Linked DNA regions of Homo sapiens: regions 1, 2 and 4 are each linked to region 3. The links come from fine-mapping of genetic effects on gene expression. A gene starts in region 3. Each other region holds a variant in brackets. All regions are shown on one strand. Distances are between the middles of the regions. Region 1 has its middle 42 kb from the start of RTN4. Region 2 has its middle 20 kb from the start of RTN4. Region 3 holds the start of RTN4 (reticulon 4). Region 4 overlaps EML6 (EMAP like 6).

What was found.
Region 1: its variant is fine-mapped to the expression of RTN4 in whole blood (TOPMed, PIP above 0.99).
Region 2: its variant is fine-mapped to the expression of RTN4 in monocytes (Quach 2016, PIP 0.95).
Region 4: its variant is fine-mapped to the expression of RTN4 in tibial nerve (GTEx, PIP above 0.99). The same link has a PIP of 0.9 or more in esophagus muscle, fibroblasts, subcutaneous fat and sun-exposed skin.

What each region holds. Positions count from the first base shown.
Region 1 is chr2:55,090,763-55,093,447 of GRCh38, reverse strand. It overlaps a transcript of RTN4 not described here. Among named protein-coding and RNA genes, the nearest start is that of RTN4, 42 kb to the right of the region's middle. The variant A/G (reference allele first, on the strand shown) is at 1,628.
Region 2 is chr2:55,069,187-55,071,871 of GRCh38, reverse strand. It overlaps a transcript of RTN4 not described here. Among named protein-coding and RNA genes, the nearest start is that of RTN4, 20 kb to the right of the region's middle. The variant A/CAACAACAAA (reference allele first, on the strand shown) is at 1,124.
Region 3 is chr2:55,048,897-55,051,581 of GRCh38, reverse strand. It overlaps RTN4 (reticulon 4), which reads left to right and starts at 1,131. Exons shown (of 9, transcript NM_020532.5): 1 at 1,131-1,837. The coding sequence starts at 1,282. RefSeq lists enhancers at 1,301-1,350, 1,313-2,125 and silencers at 1,491-1,550, 1,691-1,810.
Region 4 is chr2:54,969,366-54,972,050 of GRCh38, reverse strand. It overlaps EML6 (EMAP like 6), which reads right to left. Exons shown (of 42, transcript NM_001039753.4): 42 at 26-1,980. The coding sequence ends at 1,956. Among named protein-coding and RNA genes, the nearest start is that of RTN4, 80 kb to the left of the region's middle. The variant T/A (reference allele first, on the strand shown) is at 1,305.

The DNA.
Region 1 (2,685 bases), 42 kb before region 3:
GGGCCCAGGGACATTATTGCTTAATTTATTCTATATATATATAAAATAAATTAAATATATATAGAATAAATTATTTAAGTATAAAATACACACATATGTTTATGTGTTTGTAAATAAAACAACATACAGGTATACATGCATTTAGCCATTTAGAGTTCAACAGCATTTCAGTTGTATTTTTTAGCATTTCAACCACAAAAACTGTTGAACTAGGCACTTACAGGTATTACTAAGAGCAAATACAAATTCTATATTAATGTGTATGACATTTCTTCATTAAAGAGCTGTCACTATAATTGGCTGGCCCACGAATGTGCATCATAAGCTATCAAAACACAGACATTTTCAAGCAGCTCTTAGAACAATGCAAGGCTCTTATCTTCTGATATTTTACACACGTACACACACACATAGACACACACACAATGGTTATTTTTATTAGTGGTCAGAACTCAGTAAGCAACACTGAATAGATAAGTGAAAAAGTGAATTTTTAAAATCAAACAAAAAAGTTTTACCCATTGGGAAAATGTCTGTGAAGAAGAAGAAAATGCGAAGGGGCAAAACTGGCTACTTTGAAAGAATAAAACTTCACCCCATGTGAATTTTCCTGGGGCCGCTTCTAGCTCTAGTGTGAGGCCTCTGCTTTCTCCAGGGGAGCCCCCAAACTGAAATTGGAAAAGGGCATCTACATATATATGTGGTCAGTTTTACCTGGCTTACAGGAAGGAGTTAAATGACAAAACTCTAATGAGTGAGGCTTTTACCAGGTGCCACAATTGGGTGTGGCCTCTGACAGAGGGCAAGCAGGAAACAAGTGAAACTCAGGTATACTCATTCCACAAGTTTGTGTTGAGCACTTTTTTCTGCCAGGTAGTGTTCTAGGAGCTGGAGATAAAAAATCTCTTCCTTCGGGCCGGGCACGGTGGCTCACGCCTGTAATCCCAGCACTTTAGGAGGCCGAGGTGGGCAGATCACCTGAGGTTGGGAGTTTGAGACCAGGCTGACAACATGGAGAAACCCTGTCTCTACTAAAAATACAAAATTAGCCAGGGGTGGTGGTGAATGCCTGTAATCCCAGCTACTAGGGAGGCTGAGGCAGGAGAATTGCTTGAACCCAGGAGGTGGAGGTTACGGTGAGCTGAGATCATGCCATTACACTCCAGCCTGGGCAACAAGAGGGAAACTCCAACTCGAAAAAAAAAAAAAGAAAAGAAAAAAAAATCTCTCCCTTCATTGAGCTTCCTTTTTTTTTTTTAAGTCATGGTCTCACTCTGTCACCCAGGCTGGAGTGCAGTGGTGCCATCTCAGCTCACTGCAGCCTCAAACTCCTGGACTCAAGCAATCTTCCCACCTCAACCTCCCAGGTAGCTGAGACTACAGGCATGTGCCACCAAGCCTGGCATGGTTTGGCTGTGTCCCCACCCAAATCTCAACTTGAATTGTGTCTCCCAGAATTCCCACATGTTGTGGGAGGGACCCAGGGGGAGGTAATTGAATCATGGGGGCCAGTCTTGCCTGTGCTGTTCTCGTGATAGTGAGTAAGTCTCACGAGAGCTGATGGATTTATCAGGGGTTTCCGCTTTTGCATCTTTTTTATTTTTCTCTTGCCGCTGCCATGTAAGAA[A/G]TGCCTTTTACCTCCTGCCATGATTCTGAGGCCTCCCCAGCCATGTGGAACTGTAAGTCCAACTAAACCTCTTTTTCTTCCTAGTTTTGGGTATGTCTTTATCAGCAGCATGAAAACAGACTAATACACTGGCTAATTAAAAAAAGTTTTCTTTTTGGAGAGACAGTATCCTGCTATATTGCCCAGGCAGGTCCCAAACTCCTGGGCTCAAGCAATCCTCCTGCCTCGGCCTCCCACAGTACTGGGATTCTAGGTACAAGCTACTGCAGCTGGCCTGAGCTTACATTCTAATGAGGACAGGAAGATGAAAAATTTGTAATCAAGCAACAAGTAAGTGTTACAGGAAAATAAGATAAAGGGTAGAGAGTGAGCAGGGGCTAGAAGTTTAGGGATTGGGGCAGACAGGTGAAAATTTAAGGGAAAAGCATTCCAGGCAGAAAAATAGCATGTACGGAGGCTCTGAGGCAAGAAGCTTTATGTGTATGTGGGAAGAAAGGGCCCAGTGTGGATGACACCCTATGAATGGAGGAAGAAAGAGGTCAGAGTGGTAAACACGGCCCAATCACGTGGGGCCCCCTAGGCCACAGAGAGGAATTTGGATTGCAATGGGAAGCCATGAATGATTGTAAATGGTGGAGCCATACTGTCCGATTTATACACAGACACACCCCTTTCTGGCTGCTACCACCAGGTAGTGAAAAGGCCACTGGTGGCCAGAGGAAAGACAGGGCAACTGGTTAGGGAGGTTTTTGCTCTAGCCAGTTGAGCAAAACTGGGAGTTCAGTTGAGGACTGGTGGCTGAGACTTCTTGGGTGGAATCAATGGAGATGTGCAGAGAAGTTGAAAAATGTCAACTTGGGATGTGTCTTGGAGGAGGGACTGACAAGGCCTGCTGATCTCCTGGATAGAGAGAATGAGAGAAAGCAGAACCAAGGATGACTCGTAGATTTGGGGCTTGAGCAACTGAGTGGATGTGGGGCTGGTAACTGAGGTGGAAAAGACTGAGGGAGAAGCATGTTTAGGGGGTGGAGCCGAGTTTGGTTTTTGGCCATTTTAAA
Region 2 (2,685 bases), 20 kb before region 3:
CATCTTTACTTTACAAAGTAATTTGAACTGCTCTCTCCTAAACTGTTTATGATCTTTACAACTTTTTCCCTCCCTTCACTAATAAATCCATAGAATCTCTAAAAAGATTCAGGGGTTTTGTTTGTGGTTTTTTGACAACCACAGGCACTGCGGCAGTGCTGGGGACATCAGTGAAGGGTATGGGCTATGGTTTGCTAAAAAGGGGTAATCTATAAATTGACAGTCTGAAGTCAGTGATCGCCTGCAGCATTTTTCATAGAACCAGATCACAAATATTCTCTGCATTAGCAGAAGTAAATGACTGGCTTTTTTTTTTTTTTTTTTTTTTGATGGCAAATGGTGCCTCTCCTATACCAGCAACACAAATTCTATGTAGTTAGAAGTAGAAAAGGGCATCAAACACACAGGGTTGTTTGTTAATGTGTTTCCAGTTTCTGAAAAGACCGTAATGACTTAGTTATGTCTGGTTACATTTTCTTTTAACTTTCAAAGCACTTTTCCATCTCCTTTCGTTGTTTCCTTATAATCACCCGTACAGAAGGTAGGGAAGGTACTATTGCTCCCATTTGAGAAATGATGAAACTGAGACACAAAGAGTTAATTGCAAGGTAGTAATAGGACCCAGGATGACTGACTGTGCCAGACATTTTGTCTTGTAGATCACAAGCAAGAGACCCCCTGGTGGCCAGTAAATTATTATTGTAGAAGCTAAGCATAATTTGAAACCATTTCCAGGAACTTAGACTGGGCTTGGAGTTTCAAAGTTCCATTAAAAAAAAAAAAAGAAGAAAAAAAAGGCAGGGCGAGGTGGCTCACGCCTGTAATCCCAGCACTTTGGGAGGCCGAGGTGGGAAGATCACGAGGTCAGGAGATTGAGACCATCCTGGCTAACACAGTGAAACCCCATCTCTAATAAAAATACAAAAAATTAGCCAGGCGTGGTGGTGGGCACCTGTAGTCCCAGCTACTCGGGAGGCTGAGGCAGGAGAATGGCGTGAACCCGGGAGACAGAGCTTGCAGTGAGCCGAGATCGCACCACTGTACTCCAGCCTGGGCAAGAGAGAGAGACTCTGTCAAAAAAAACGAAAAACAAAAAAACAAACAACAACAACAACAACAACAA[A/CAACAACAAA]AATCAAAACAGCTGTTTGTCCTTGATAGGAGTGGAGATTTTTATATGCTGAGATAATAATAGACCGGTGATTTTTAACCAAAGTCAATTTTGCTCCCCACCCCTAATCTCATCCCTCTTCCCAAAGGCATTTTTGGTTATTGCAAATGGGAGGGAGTATTTTATTTTTCTTTCTTTCTTTCTTTTTTTTTTTTTTTTTTTTTGAGACAGAGTCTTGCTCAGTCACCCAGGCTGGAGTGCAATGGCATGATCATAGCTCACTACAGCCTTGATTTCTTGGGCCCAAGTGATCCTCTGGCCTCAGCCTGCTGAGTAGCTGGGACTACAAGTGTGAGCCACCATGCCTGGTTAATATTTTAACATTTTTAGTAGAGACAAGATCTCGCTATGTTGAACTCCTGAGCTCACGGGATCCTTCTGCCTTAGCTTCCCAAAGTGCTGGAATTACAGGTGCGAGCCACTGTGCCTGGCCTTTTGTTTGGGGGGGTGGGGAGGATTTGGGGAAGGGTGTATTACTGGAGTATTACTGGCATCTAGTGAGTAGCAGCTGGTGATCCCGCTAAACATCCTAGAATGCACAAGACAGCCCCCATAACAAAGACTATCCAGCTCATAGTTTTAATTGTTCTGAGGTTGAGGAACCCCTGCTTTAGACTGTCTCTTTGCCTTGGTTAATGGTGCTTGGCATGTTATCAGTTTGCCCTATGATTAGTCTCTGCCATCGAAACCACTGGGCAAGACATTTTAAAAGGGAGTTCAATAATGTGCCATCTTTTACCCCACATTTGCTGCTTTCTCTTAATTCTTCATCCCTTCTCTCAATCCTTTCCCCAGTTGTCATCATCCCTACTTCTCCAGCCAGCATTTGGCTTAATTCATGTACCTGTGTTTCTCTCTTTTTCCTCTTTGACATCAAATTGACATGGTTCAGTTCCACTGTGGTCTCTTTTTCTTGCTCTCTTAGAGAAAACACTGAACTTCGTGGACATTGGGTGATGGGTGGAGGTGCAGGCCCTGCAGGTGCCCCCAGGAATGTCGGTTGGGCCTCTCTGGGAGACTGCTTATCTGCCAGCTTCTATTATTAATTTTGGAAGAATGCTTGGGTGGAGGAGGCAGAGGCCTTCCCTTAGTGCCTTAGAGGAAACTCACAGGTGAATTTTCCTAGAAGTTAACTCTACTTCTGAAAGGAGGGTGAACAATTATACTCCATACTCACCTACAAGTTGTAACTCTTATTTGTGTAATAGCAATAAACCCTGTGGATAGTAGTCTCTGGCCATGCAGATATTTTCAGTTTGTTTTTAGACAATGGCAGAGTTGAATTTACTAAGAGGAACACTTAGAGTATTAGAGGGGCTTTCTGATTTTTTTGAGGGGGGCGGTTACAGAGGACCAGGTAATTTTGGATTTTATTTTCCAGAAGAATGCTGACATGGATGAGAAGCATTACTTTTATCTCACTGATAAAGGTTAGAACTTTCATACTCTAAGCAATTGATTTCTTGAAGACGACTGGACTAAACCAGTCTAATTAGGTTTTTTTCTGAGCTAGGTAAAATGTG
Region 3 (2,685 bases):
GAGTAGGCATGCAGTGAATATTTTTGAAAGGTAAATCAGAAAGATAAAAGGATCCTGATTCTTACAAAGATGTTCTGCAACTACTCTCTTTAAACTCTCCAGCCTCATAAAAAGTGGAATGGGGATCATGCTTATTCCTGCATATCAAACCAATGACTATGGGGCTTCCTGACTCCCAGAAAGCCTGAATCATCCGAAATGTTGACTCATGAACCTAAGGTGACTGAAATGTAACGTGAACCAAATTAGCTTTCCAAGGCATCTTTGTATTTCCACTTTCCTGTCTCCCCGCTGCCTCTCTCTTTGGGTGACTCACTCTCTTACCATGTAAGAGTCCAGCAGGCAAGGCCCCAAACTCTCTTTGGAAGAAGAGCAGACTTTCAAATGGTCGGCCCCAGATCCCTAGTTAATTCAGCACAGCTGTTTTCCTCCCAATTTCGGGGGCTGCGGTTTAGACTGAGTGAGCCTAACTGTCAAAAAACAATTTTTTTCTTATTTTAGGGTGGTAGTAGTAGTGATGTAGTTTGGAACTTTGAGTGAACAAATAATCTTTTATTTCAAAAATCTTTAAAAATCCTTAGGGCCCACTTCCCAGTCCCGCTAATACCTTTCTCCAGTCGGGTTTCTTCCTTTCCCGGGAGGAAAGTTTCCACTCTCAGTTCCCCCAGGATAACGCCCTTCCGGTGGCGCGCCAGAAACCGCGCCGACCCCTCCCAGCCAGCAGCCCGCCCCCTTTCCCAGTGCTCTAACGACATACGGACGCCAGCTGCGGGCAAGGCCAAGACCCCACCCCAACTCACGGTTACCCAAAGTGGGGGTGGAGCTCCCAGCTCTCAGCCCCGCCCATTGAACGCAATCCCAGCCGGTAAGAGAGAGGAAGTGCCGTAGTCCCCACCCACTTTCATCTCCTTCCCTTTCTGTTGGCCCGGCTGGTCGCCTATCTTCTCGATCCTGTAGCCGATTGGCTCTCTCCCTCCCGCGCCAGTCCCTGCCCTCCCCTGGGGAGGGTGAGTCACGCCAAACTGGGCGGAGAGTCCGCTGGCCTCACTCCTAGCTCATCTGGGCGGCGGCGGCAAGTGGGGACAGGGCGGGTGGCGCATCACCGGCGCGGAGGCAGGAGGAGCAGTCTCATTGTTCCGGGAGCCGTCACCACAGTAGGTCCCTCGGCTCAGTCGGCCCAGCCCCTCTCAGTCCTCCCCAACCCCCACAACCGCCCGCGGCTCTGAGACGCGGCCCCGGCGGCGGCGGCAGCAGCTGCAGCATCATCTCCACCCTCCAGCCATGGAAGACCTGGACCAGTCTCCTCTGGTCTCGTCCTCGGACAGCCCACCCCGGCCGCAGCCCGCGTTCAAGTACCAGTTCGTGAGGGAGCCCGAGGACGAGGAGGAAGAAGAGGAGGAGGAAGAGGAGGACGAGGACGAAGACCTGGAGGAGCTGGAGGTGCTGGAGAGGAAGCCCGCCGCCGGGCTGTCCGCGGCCCCAGTGCCCACCGCCCCTGCCGCCGGCGCGCCCCTGATGGACTTCGGAAATGACTTCGTGCCGCCGGCGCCCCGGGGACCCCTGCCGGCCGCTCCCCCCGTCGCCCCGGAGCGGCAGCCGTCTTGGGACCCGAGCCCGGTGTCGTCGACCGTGCCCGCGCCATCCCCGCTGTCTGCTGCCGCAGTCTCGCCCTCCAAGCTCCCTGAGGACGACGAGCCTCCGGCCCGGCCTCCCCCTCCTCCCCCGGCCAGCGTGAGCCCCCAGGCAGAGCCCGTGTGGACCCCGCCAGCCCCGGCTCCCGCCGCGCCCCCCTCCACCCCGGCCGCGCCCAAGCGCAGGGGCTCCTCGGGCTCAGTGGGTGAGTGCCGCGACCTCTCGCTTCGCGCCGCCCCTCGCGCCCCTCCCTCTTTTGTGTGCAGCCCCAGATGCTTTGGGCTGGTCCCTCCTCTCCGCCCCGAGGGCGCTTTGTCTGCGGACTTCGGGGCGATGGCGCCCCGTCTGGTTGGAAGCGCGGGGAGAAGGGTGGGGCGGCCCTTGGAGCCCGGGTTTGTTCTTATTGTCCGTCTTGGTTTCGGGGAACACGTGCACCGCTCCCGGCTCCCACTTTCACCCTGTGTGATGCCCAGCGTACGGATTCTCGGAAGTTAGGCACCCACCCGTAGTAGGAGCCGGGTATATACCCGAGAGCCAGGGTTGTGGATTTATCGGGTTGGTTGGGCTTCGAGGTGAGGAAGGAAAGGCCTTGGCACCCAGATATTTTTAGGAGGTGCTTTTGTCTACCCGTCTGGGTTGCTCCTTTGGAAAAGGTGCAGTTTTGCTGCGGGTCTGTTGGCCTGCATTCTGCCCCGGGCTCCCTCCTCACCTCCTGGCTGGCGTGGGTGGCCCCTTTGCGCTTCCCCTCCCCCTCCTCCTGTGCTCGTGGGGAGCTGGCCGAGTGGAAAACGTCCACATTGACCCAACCGCAGTGAAGGGAGAGCGCCTCCAGTGGTGTGGTGCGTGGAGAAATGGGAAGGAGAGAGTTCTGGTAAAGTCCTGCCACCGCCCAGCTCCCCGGGGTGTGATGTGGACTGCTCCCCACCAGCTAAACCGAGCCAGGGAAAGGGGATCTAGGCATTGTGTTCGAGGGGGCGTAGTTCTGCCGGGGTTTCAGCTGCAGGGTCGGAGGAATTGCTGTTAGTGTGGACTTGGCCCAGCCTCTTAGTGCAT
Region 4 (2,685 bases), 80 kb after region 3:
TACTGTGGAAACAAAAGTCAACAAATGTGTTTACATAATCAAATTTTATTTGACACATAAAATGTTTAAGTGATGTGTTTTATACTTTGAAAATAAATTCATGCACCAATGTTTTAACTCACATATATCATACAGTGCAGGATTTATGAACATACATAAAATCAAAATCATACCATATAAACGTTTACAAATAAGTTTTTCATGACACACGGACACTATTGCTCTTTAAATATGGTTGTACATGTCATCATTAATCGATTCATTGTTCTTCCACATGGTTATTTCAATGCAAGATCCGATCAGCATGAAGAGTCTAGTACAAGATAGGCAGACATGGTTATCACTCTGCATCACCAGTCACATGGTTACAGAAAACAGAATTGGGACTGCATAGGGACTCTACTGCGGGCCCAACAACCTATTAGTGGATTGATGTAAGGCATTAGTAAATTGGCATATAAAAATAGCTTAATGAGTGATCTAATCCATTTAGAATGCTGAAGCACTTCTGTGGTAAATGTTAGTCTATTCTACAATTGAAAATGCCTCATTTTACCTTTTCTCTAAACTGACAAATGCAAGTAGCCAGTAACTGTAGGTCTAGAATTTTCGTTCACTGACCAGAAGGACTAATAGGCGTCTATGTGCTCAGAACCACCAGTCCCGCACCAACTCTCCTTTCAGTGAGCACTGTCAGCCACATCCTGTAGTCACTGGTCAGCTACATGGAAAGTGTGACTGAGGGGCTTACGGATGGCTTCTGGTAAAGATTGTCCAAGTCATATTCCGTCATACAACCAACTCCAAGGAACTCTAACTCACTTTATAATTTTGATTTACCAGCTATTCCTTGGGTTTACAATTTGTTCTGCAGATAATTTTTTTATAATCTGGACTTGACCTATATAGTTCGCCTGAAGCAATCAAATGAAGTCACCTCAACTCCACTCAGGGTGGTACACCAAGGTGCAGCCTTGGGTTACCCTCATTTATCTTAAGATTTAACGAGATAAGTCAGCTCATTCTCATAGACCTTCCTGAGCCTTTTTCCCCTTCCATTTTGTAGTAGAAGTTTGTTTAACTTGAATTCTATTTTGGATTTTGTGGGTTTGGCATGAAACACAATGAAAACCCATAATTCTACCCTGTCCCGAACTTCAATTCCTTTGCTGCTCACCTTCCCATAAGCAGGTAACCGATGTCTTTCATTTAGGAAGCCTTGGCGTGAACACAGGACAAGGGTGACACACTGAATCTGCTAAGGGTCCTGCAGCCCTCCTCAGCTTTGAGGTTTTAGCACCATA[T/A]GGAGAAAGGAGAAATTGGTGGGAGGTGAGACAGCAGCCCACACAACTGGAAACTTTCAAAGGCACTTAATGGATATAAAACTCTGCAAATGAAACATTTAAAAATTAAGTTTCTCAACTCCTTTATACATGGCTCATTTGGTTTTGAAAGCTAAACTGGAGAACAGAGGCTAGCGATATTTCTAGTACTTCGGTGCATCTAACTTAGGCTGTCTTGTTCAACTTATTTGTAAAAATGAACATTCTTGAAGTATATAGAAACAATAGCAAAACATCTTTGTAAAAGTTTTGATGCAAATTAAAAGCTACATATTGGTTAGGGTAACCGAGGCTTCAAAATTCGTCAGCGGGCTACATTATCAGATAGGATTTCTTTGTCAATGTAGTTAGTATGTATACTGTTTAGTCTCAGGAACAGAGGCAAGCAGTCTTTAACATTTTAAAACTTGACCTTCCTTCGTGGCATCACGGTTTTGGAGAGTCCAGATTATGGGAGCAGTTGTGTAACTTCTGCAGCGTTTTGAGCTTGTGCATCCGGGGCAGCATGGTAGGCATTTCCCAACGGCTGGTGGCAAGGAGGCACCTCAGCATGGCCTCTGCAGTTGCTGGCTGGTAGCAGCAGCAGCAATAACATAAGAGGCTTCTGGCATTTTACAGACATCGCCACACAAATACACTGAAAAGGCAGATCAAACAGTCATTTTGCATAGCTGGACATCATACTTGTGTCAAGTGGCAAAAAACAATCTTGCCAAGTGCTCAAAAGTCAAGCTCGGGTGATGTATTGAACATTTTGACTTCAAAAGGTAAACCAGGGATCTTGCCACCAAATTAAGATCTATTGCTTTTCTTAAAAGGTCTGTTTTTTTCAGTTGAGTTCTGTTTGGTTCTTTCAGCAGTTTGAATGTCTGTGCTAAATGTTGGTCCGTGAGGACTTCTGGCACTTTGATATCACACTCTCTCCTGTTACTATTGAAAAGGTTTATCACCTCCACTTGAGTCAGAGAGCCCTTTTGAGTGTTTAGCACAGAACCAGGGATCACAGCATGCTCCCATGCCTACAAAGGCCTGCAAGCCCTGCACGGTTAAGGCCACTTCTTTTTTATATTAAAACAAGTCTGTATCCCCTGCATTGGGGTGACCAATTCATTTACGTCTTTTACTCCTAGCTTGTTCACAATTGGGTTGGTGCTGCTTTGAAGGGGTGTTAGCACTTCACAGGGAGCTGCTGGCGGTACTATCTCAAGGGCTATAAGTGCCAGAAGTAGCCAGCACAGCAGGCTGGAGATGGGGGCTCCCAGGCAGGCCATGAGAAATACACAGTGCTTTTGAGTGGGAAGTGGGTTGAGATTCTTTATAGGTGCCTTTCTTACAACCTAAC